Homo sapiens: one gene and its partner. The protein of the gene in region 1 interacts with the protein of each later gene in a biochemical or structural test. Each region holds a gene or a part of one and is shown on either strand. Other genes may lie near its edges.

Region 1 (3,500 bases):
AGCACTGCGGGCAGAAGGACAAAAAGCAGGGACAACAGAATCATTCATGGGGGTTTCAGACTCAAAACCAAGCCATTAATATCAACAGAAACAATGTCTACTCTTTGGAGCTATTTATAAAATTGTCTATTTATGTTTGAAAATATGTTGGCAAAAAGCATAGGGCTTTGGAGTCAGCCCAAACCTGCTCTTGGAGTTCAGCTTCTCCAGTACAACGTGCCTGAGGTAAGTCCCTTAACCTCTCTGACCCTTAATTTCTGCATCTGTGAAATGGGGACAACAGCACATACCATACAGAGTGCTGGTTGGACAGAATGAAACAGGAATCATATACAAAAAAATACATCAAAATTACTGAAAGAGGGCCGGGCGCAGTGGCTCTCACCTATAATACCAGCACTTTGGGAGGCCGAGGCAGGAGGATCACTTGGGGCCAGGAGTTCCAGACCAGCCTGGCCAACATAGCAAAACCTCGTCTCTACTAAAAACACAAAAATTAGCCAGGCATGTTGTCACGTACCAGTAATCCCAGCTACTCGGGAGGCTGAGACATGAGAATTGCTTGAACCCAGAAAGCAGAGGTTGCAGTGAGCTAAGATCGCTCAATTGCACTCTAGCCTGGGTGACAGAGTGAGACTCTGTCTCAAAAAATAATAATAATAAAGTTATTGAAATAGAAGAAGTAAATAATTTTAAAAATTAAAAACAAAACAAAACAAAAAACATTGTGCTCAGAGGCTGGCTCAATAAATGGTAGCTTCTTTAACAACTGGACAAATAAACACTTTCACATATATCTACTTGCCCAAGAAATGAATGAGATTTAGGAAACCCAATATTCCCCAGTATAATCATGAAGCCCAAACTGGAGAATCAGCAGCCCACAGACTCATTACAGAGGTCACAGCACAGCTTCCATCAAAGGCCTTGGTGGAAAAGCAGCTGGAATCTTGTGAAGCAAACAAATATAGTGTTAGGGGAGAAATATATTTATGGTAGAAGAGAACAGAATGGGCCGGGCATGGTAGCTCATACCTGTAATCCCAGCACTTTGGAAGGACAAGGCAGGTGGATCACCTGAGGTCAAGGGTTCGAGACCAGCCTGGCCAACATGACAAAACCTTGTCTCTATTAAAATACAAAAATTAGCCGGGCGTAGTGTCAGATGCCTGTAATCCCAGCTACTTGGGAGGCTGAGGCAGGAGAATGGCCTGAACCCGGGAGGCGGAGGTTGCAGTGAGCCAAGATGGCACCACTGCACTCTAGCCTGGGCAACAAAACAAGACTCTGTCTCAAAAACGAAAAAAAAAAAAGAGAGAGAGAGAGAGAGAACAGAATCACAATCAAAGAGATGAATCATAGAAGAGTAGAAGAAAAGAAGGAAAAAGAGAACCAAGCAAAAATGACTTAAGGGATCCTCAAGAGTCAGGCCTATTTCCACCACACCCCCACCACCTCAATACCTACAAAGCAGTCAACAGCTACAAAGCAAACATCATGAAGAATAAGGAGAAACTGCAGAGCCAGGATGAAGTTGTTTAATGCACAACTTCTGGTGGACTCAGAGATAATGCTGACTTAGTCTTTGCTGTTTTAACTGAGCATGTTGCCATGGCCATGGCCAATGGCAGTGCTGTAGGGTCTAGGAGAAATATGCCTTGGGATCAAAATGTCCCTCAATGCAGTTGCTCTATGCCTCAAACAGATATTAAATTCTTCCTACAGTTAAAGAGCTAGGAGTGGGTAGGTAAAAGCAAGCCCTGGGCGCTAGGAGACAGGGACAGGCTGTGGCCTAGAGGGGCAGCAGGAGCTGTCACCTGCAGTGCACCACGACCGGCCCTGCATCCATGATGCTCTCCTGCTTATGGTGCACCTCCTCCAGGAAGTCCAGCACGCCCCCAGGGTCGCTGGGCACGCCGTGGTCCGGCCAGGTCCGAAAGTGGTATTGCCAGACCGTTCTCTCCGTATTCCCCTGGAGTAGAGCCAAGAAAAACCAGAAAAGAATTAAATAAATCAAGAGGTTGAGGAATCACCCGGTTCTAAGCTTTCCTAAATCCAATGGAGAGGAAGAGAATCTCCCCAGGTTCCACTGAAAGGTCCTCTTCGTGAGGTTCCCAGAACTCGTCTCCTTTTGGGCAATCCTGGAGGCAACTCTTTGCCTCTGTCATAAGAACCAAGACGTCTGGCATGGCAATTTGTTCTTTCAGGTAACTATACCCTGAATCATCTCTCTGAATTACCAGCGACAGGTAACATCCCTATTCCCCTGCATCCCTGTGGCACTCAGCTCTGGAGGCAACTGAAACCTCTAGGGATCCAGGTCTCTCCTCCCAGCAGAAGAGGAAGCAGATGGGGAAACAGGCATTCACTTAAGACATTCATTCCTCTTTGTTATTTTTTTGATACTCAACCTTCCCCACCATATAAACACAGACTATAGTATCATTCTTTTTTTTTTTTTTTTCCAAGACAGAGTCTTACTCTGTTGCCCAGGCTGGAGTGCAGTGGCGTGATCTTGGCTCACTGCAACCTCTGCCTCCCGGGTTCAAGCCATTCTCCTGCCTCAGCCTCCCAAGTAGCTGGGATTACAGGCACACATCACCATGCCTGGCTAATTTTTGTATTTTTAGTAGCGATGGGGTTTCTTTCGCCATATTGGCCAGGCTGGTTGCAAACTCCTGACCTCAGGTGATCTGCCTGCCTCGACCTCCCAAAGTGCTGGGATTACAGGCGTGAGCCACCCAGCCTGGCCAGTATTGTTCTATTTTAAACTTATATTTAATGCAAAGCAGATAAGAAAACAGGCTTTGCTATCAGATGACTAGATTTAGGCTCCAATTCCAGGCACTCACACTCACGTGGCCCTTGGGTATCTCTAAACCTCAATTTCTTCATTTTGCAAAATGCAAATAATAATCTCTTTCTCTCTATCATAATGCAATTTTAAGGACTCAGTGAGCTCGCTGAAATACTCAGCCTCTGCCCAGCAAATAGGAAGAGACTCAGCACATTATGGCTATTTTGAGGATAATGATAATTAATAAAGATCAACAATGGCACCAAGGCTACAGAAAACCAAAAAGTATCATGTTTCTGGGTCTATCCAGATGACGTAATTGTAGCAGCACCATTCATTCCTACATCTTCTTCCTATATATGTAGAGACAATCTAAGCTAAGTGACTTTTTTTTTTGAGACAGAGTCTCACTCTGTCATCCAGGCTGGTGCACAGTGACCTGATCACAGCTCACTGCAACCTACGCCTCCCCGATTCAAGCAATTCTTGGGCCTCAGACTCGACTCCCGAGTAGCTGGGACTACAGGCATGTACCACATCCAGCTAATTTTAGTAGAGAAGGAGTTTCGCCATGTTGGCCAGGCTGGTCTTGTACTCCTGACCTCAAGTAATCCACCCACTTCAGCCTCCCAAAGTGCAGGGATTACAGGCATGAGCCACTTTGCCCAGCCTTAAGTGACATTTTTAAAAGGGATGTAAAAGG
Region 2 (3,500 bases), on another chromosome or scaffold:
AATGTCCAGAATAGGCAAATCTGTAAAGACTGAAAGTAGATTCGTGGTTGCCTAGAGTTGGGGGATTTGGGAGGGAAATGGAAGGGGGGCTGCTAATGGGTACAGGGTTTCCTTGTGGAGTGATGAAAATGTTTTAAAATTTATTGTTTTGATGAAATATATTTAGTTTGTTTGTTTGGAGACAGAGTCTTGCTCTGTTGCCCAGGCTGGAGGGCAGTGGCATGATCTTGGCTCACTGCAACTTCTGCCTCCCAGGTTCAAGCGATTCTCCTGCCTCAGCCTCCCGAGTAGCCGGAACTACAGGTGCACACTGCCACACCTGGCTAATTTTTTTGTATTTTAGTAGAGACGGGGTTTCACCGTGTTGCCCAGGCTGCTCTCGAACTCCTGAGCTCAGGCAATCCGACCACCTTGGCCTCTCAAAGTGCTAGGATTGCAGGAGTGAGCCACCACGCCCAGCCTGTGAAATATGTTTCAATAAAGCTATTATAAAAAAGGTATCATTTCTATTCTCAATTACTACTTCAAATCTTCTGTCCAAGAAATTCCTTTTTATCCTTGGTAATAACTATCTAACACTATGTTCACCTAGACATAACCATCCTTACTCTAGTGAAAACTTTTGTGTGAATGACCATCTGGTGTTGAGTGTATTTGCTTAAAGATAACATCATATTCATGTAACTTTTACAATTCTAAAAAATATGAATAGCAAATACAAACTTTGACAGAGCAGAAAACCTGTAAGAATTTAAATATACCAACAGTGTGCGACTTTTTTTTTACTGAAAAATAAATCAGAAAAAAATGAGAATGCATGCTTCCTATATTTCATGGGGCTGAAGCAGATATGCTAATATTACATTTTAATAGGGACTTCTTGCAATGCTGCAGTGAACACATTCTCTGTAAAGAATTGCAGGTTACACAATAATATGTTAACGCATTCTGGAAGGGAACTTTTTCTTCTTACCTATTCAGTGCAAATGCATAATGAAACTTCACATGGTGATGGGAGGCCAAATCAAAGGTTGGCAGTTTTTCTAAAGTCTCTACCAGCTTCACAATAGAATCATAGTCCTTTCAAATTAGATGAGAATAGCACAGAATTAAACCATTAGGAGAAAATTCTCACAATAACGTGTCTTTTGACAACCAGATATCTGAATTCAAGAAACACATTAAAAAGACACTAGAATCCACAGAACACTTTGAAGAACCTAGAATAAACAGTTTTTGTTGTTTTTCTTCTAAAAGGTTTAGATCGTATATATAAAAACATTAGAAACATACAGTTACCATGTTGAACAAAAACTAAAAAAGCAAAAGAAACAAAAACACCAAGCATGATAGTGCTCTACTGTCTAAATATGGGTGATTTATTTCCCCATAGAGCCAGATTCCCGGTATGCAGTGTTCTAACAATTTCAGGGAAATAAAAATGTCAAGGACATGAGGCAATGGGTTGAACTTCTGTTACAAGTAGCAACACAGTTTCATGTCACATGAGTAAGCACTCTAGCCACAGGATCCTATGTGCCACAGCCCTCCATGGATGTGAGTCTGTCTTGAGCACATGAAGCCTTTACACAGACCTGAAAGGCTAGGAATGGAAAGGAGAAACCAGATGTCATTTAAATTTTACTATTAAAACCTAAGAGCAAATCCCTAACTTGGAGAGGATTTTATTCCACTTACCCTATTTTTAAAATTTTAAGACATGTCAATAAAAATGATATAACCTGTTAGTGTGTTTTACATTACATATTTTTAAAGTTATTTCTGTAGGTAATCAATTACATATTTTTTCCTTCAGGCGAGTTAGATTCAGCACTATCAATTTCAAGCAATACAATTTCAAGGGATAAAAGGTATGTCCAGAAAGCTCTAAAAATGTCTGCTATTTGCCAAAACAAAGCTTTCACTGACAGGTGTGCCTGAGGCTAACAGTAGAATAGACTGTGTCCACAGGTTCGCTGTGCCAGCAGATTTTTCTTTTTGTTCTTTTGGAGGAAAAAGTCAGGCCTTTACCATACAAGTCTTTCACAATCACTGATGGTTAACTCACATGAGTCTTTTTCATTCATCATAAAATTATAGGATGGAAAGCTTAAGAGAGTCAATAAAAAATTACGTGTAGTAACATGAACTGCTTACCAGCAAACTGAAATTTGAGGTTAATACTCCCTTATCCCTCCAACATGCTACACAACAAAGATTTCACTTTAAACATCTTCTCACCTGGATATCTCTGTAGGAAAGTAACAGATTTATGACAATATCTGCTGTCAAGACTTCGATATTATCTACTCGCTGCCGAATTCTTGCCAACTCAGCTGCCAATTCTTTACCAGTGTATAAATTACGAGCTTTCCTGATGTCATTGAGTATAGATTCCCGGAAGTACTGGCTGGTAAAAACACACACATTTCAAAGAGTTTGACATTAGAAACAATTTCAATGAAAAGCAATAATTTTAATAAAGACATGAATGATATTGCAGCATTAGCTATAAAGCATTTGTAGTTTTCAGTTCATTCAGATGCCTAAATAAATATCTTACATATCTGGCATTATTAAGAAATTTAGAAGCCAATGTATTTCTTTTATTACTCTGCCTTCAGAAAGAATTAAAGGTAAAGGTACTCCATATTAATAAATTTTCCTGCAAAAAACCACTTAAAATGCCAAAACTTTGTTTTCCATTTTACTGTTTCCAGTACAAATTGTTCTAAATAAATTAGATGTACCTATGATTTTTTGTTTGTTTGTTGTTTTTGTTTTTGAGACAGAGTCTCACTCTGTTGCCCAGACTAGAGTATACTGGCATGATCTTGGCTCACTGCAACCTCCATCTCCTGGGTTCAAGCAATTCTCTTGCCTCAGCCTTGTGAGTAGCTGGGATTACAGGTGTGCACCACCACACCTGGCTAATTTTTGTATTTTTGGTAGAGACAGGGTTTCGGCATGTTGGCCAGGCTGGTCTCGAACTCCTGATCTCAAGTGATCTGCCCACCTCGGCCTCCCAAAATGCTGGGATTACAGGCATGAGCCACGGCACTGGCCGTGATGTACCTATGATTTGAACATAATATAACCTTAACTTCCTGACTCAGCCTATCATTTATTAACATAAATAATTGTTCTTCACTGAAAGAACAATTAGAGTTAAGAGTTAATTAAAGTTGAATTGTTCTTGCCCTTACACTAGAAGTCCCTGGACATTTATCCTGGTATTGTTTCTGTACTTGCTTTGTATATATTTTTAGTTCTACCATCACTATAAAGCGGTTAGTAGACTTTTTAATTTTTTGCTGATTTCAAGTTGCTGTTCTGTGAATAAAATGTATTATGTGGCATCTATTTTATCTACTTGGAGGATAATAAACATTTTCCCCCTAGTTCTTAGCTGTATACTGATATCTCAGGAGCACCTGATATCATGCACAAATAAAGATGTAGAATAACACTTTATTGTCATCACCAAATGGCATTATTAA

What was found. Proteins that work in one complex are often made in the same cells at the same time.
Region 2: of the proteins of PTPN11 (region 1) and MAP3K5, one has a biochemical effect on the other in vitro, tested with the Homo sapiens proteins (one study listed by BioGRID).

What each region holds. Positions count from the first base shown.
Region 1 is NC_000012.12:112,484,947-112,488,446, reverse strand, and holds part of PTPN11 (tyrosine-protein phosphatase non-receptor type 11), read right to left. Parts: intron 1,985-3,500; coding exon of another isoform or gene 1,973-1,984; coding exon 1,818-1,972; coding exon of another isoform or gene 1,814-1,817; exon of another isoform or gene 1,524-1,813; intron 5-1,523; coding exon 1-4. UniProt on the Homo sapiens protein: Acts downstream of various receptor and cytoplasmic protein tyrosine kinases to participate in the signal transduction from the cell surface to the nucleus. Positively regulates MAPK signal transduction pathway. Dephosphorylates GAB1, ARHGAP35 and EGFR.
Region 2 is NC_000006.12:136,694,978-136,698,477, forward strand, and holds part of MAP3K5 (mitogen-activated protein kinase kinase kinase 5), read right to left. Parts: intron 2,411-3,500; coding exon 2,242-2,410; intron 1,081-2,241; coding exon 974-1,080; intron 1-973. UniProt on the Homo sapiens protein: Serine/threonine kinase which acts as an essential component of the MAP kinase signal transduction pathway. Plays an important role in the cascades of cellular responses evoked by changes in the environment.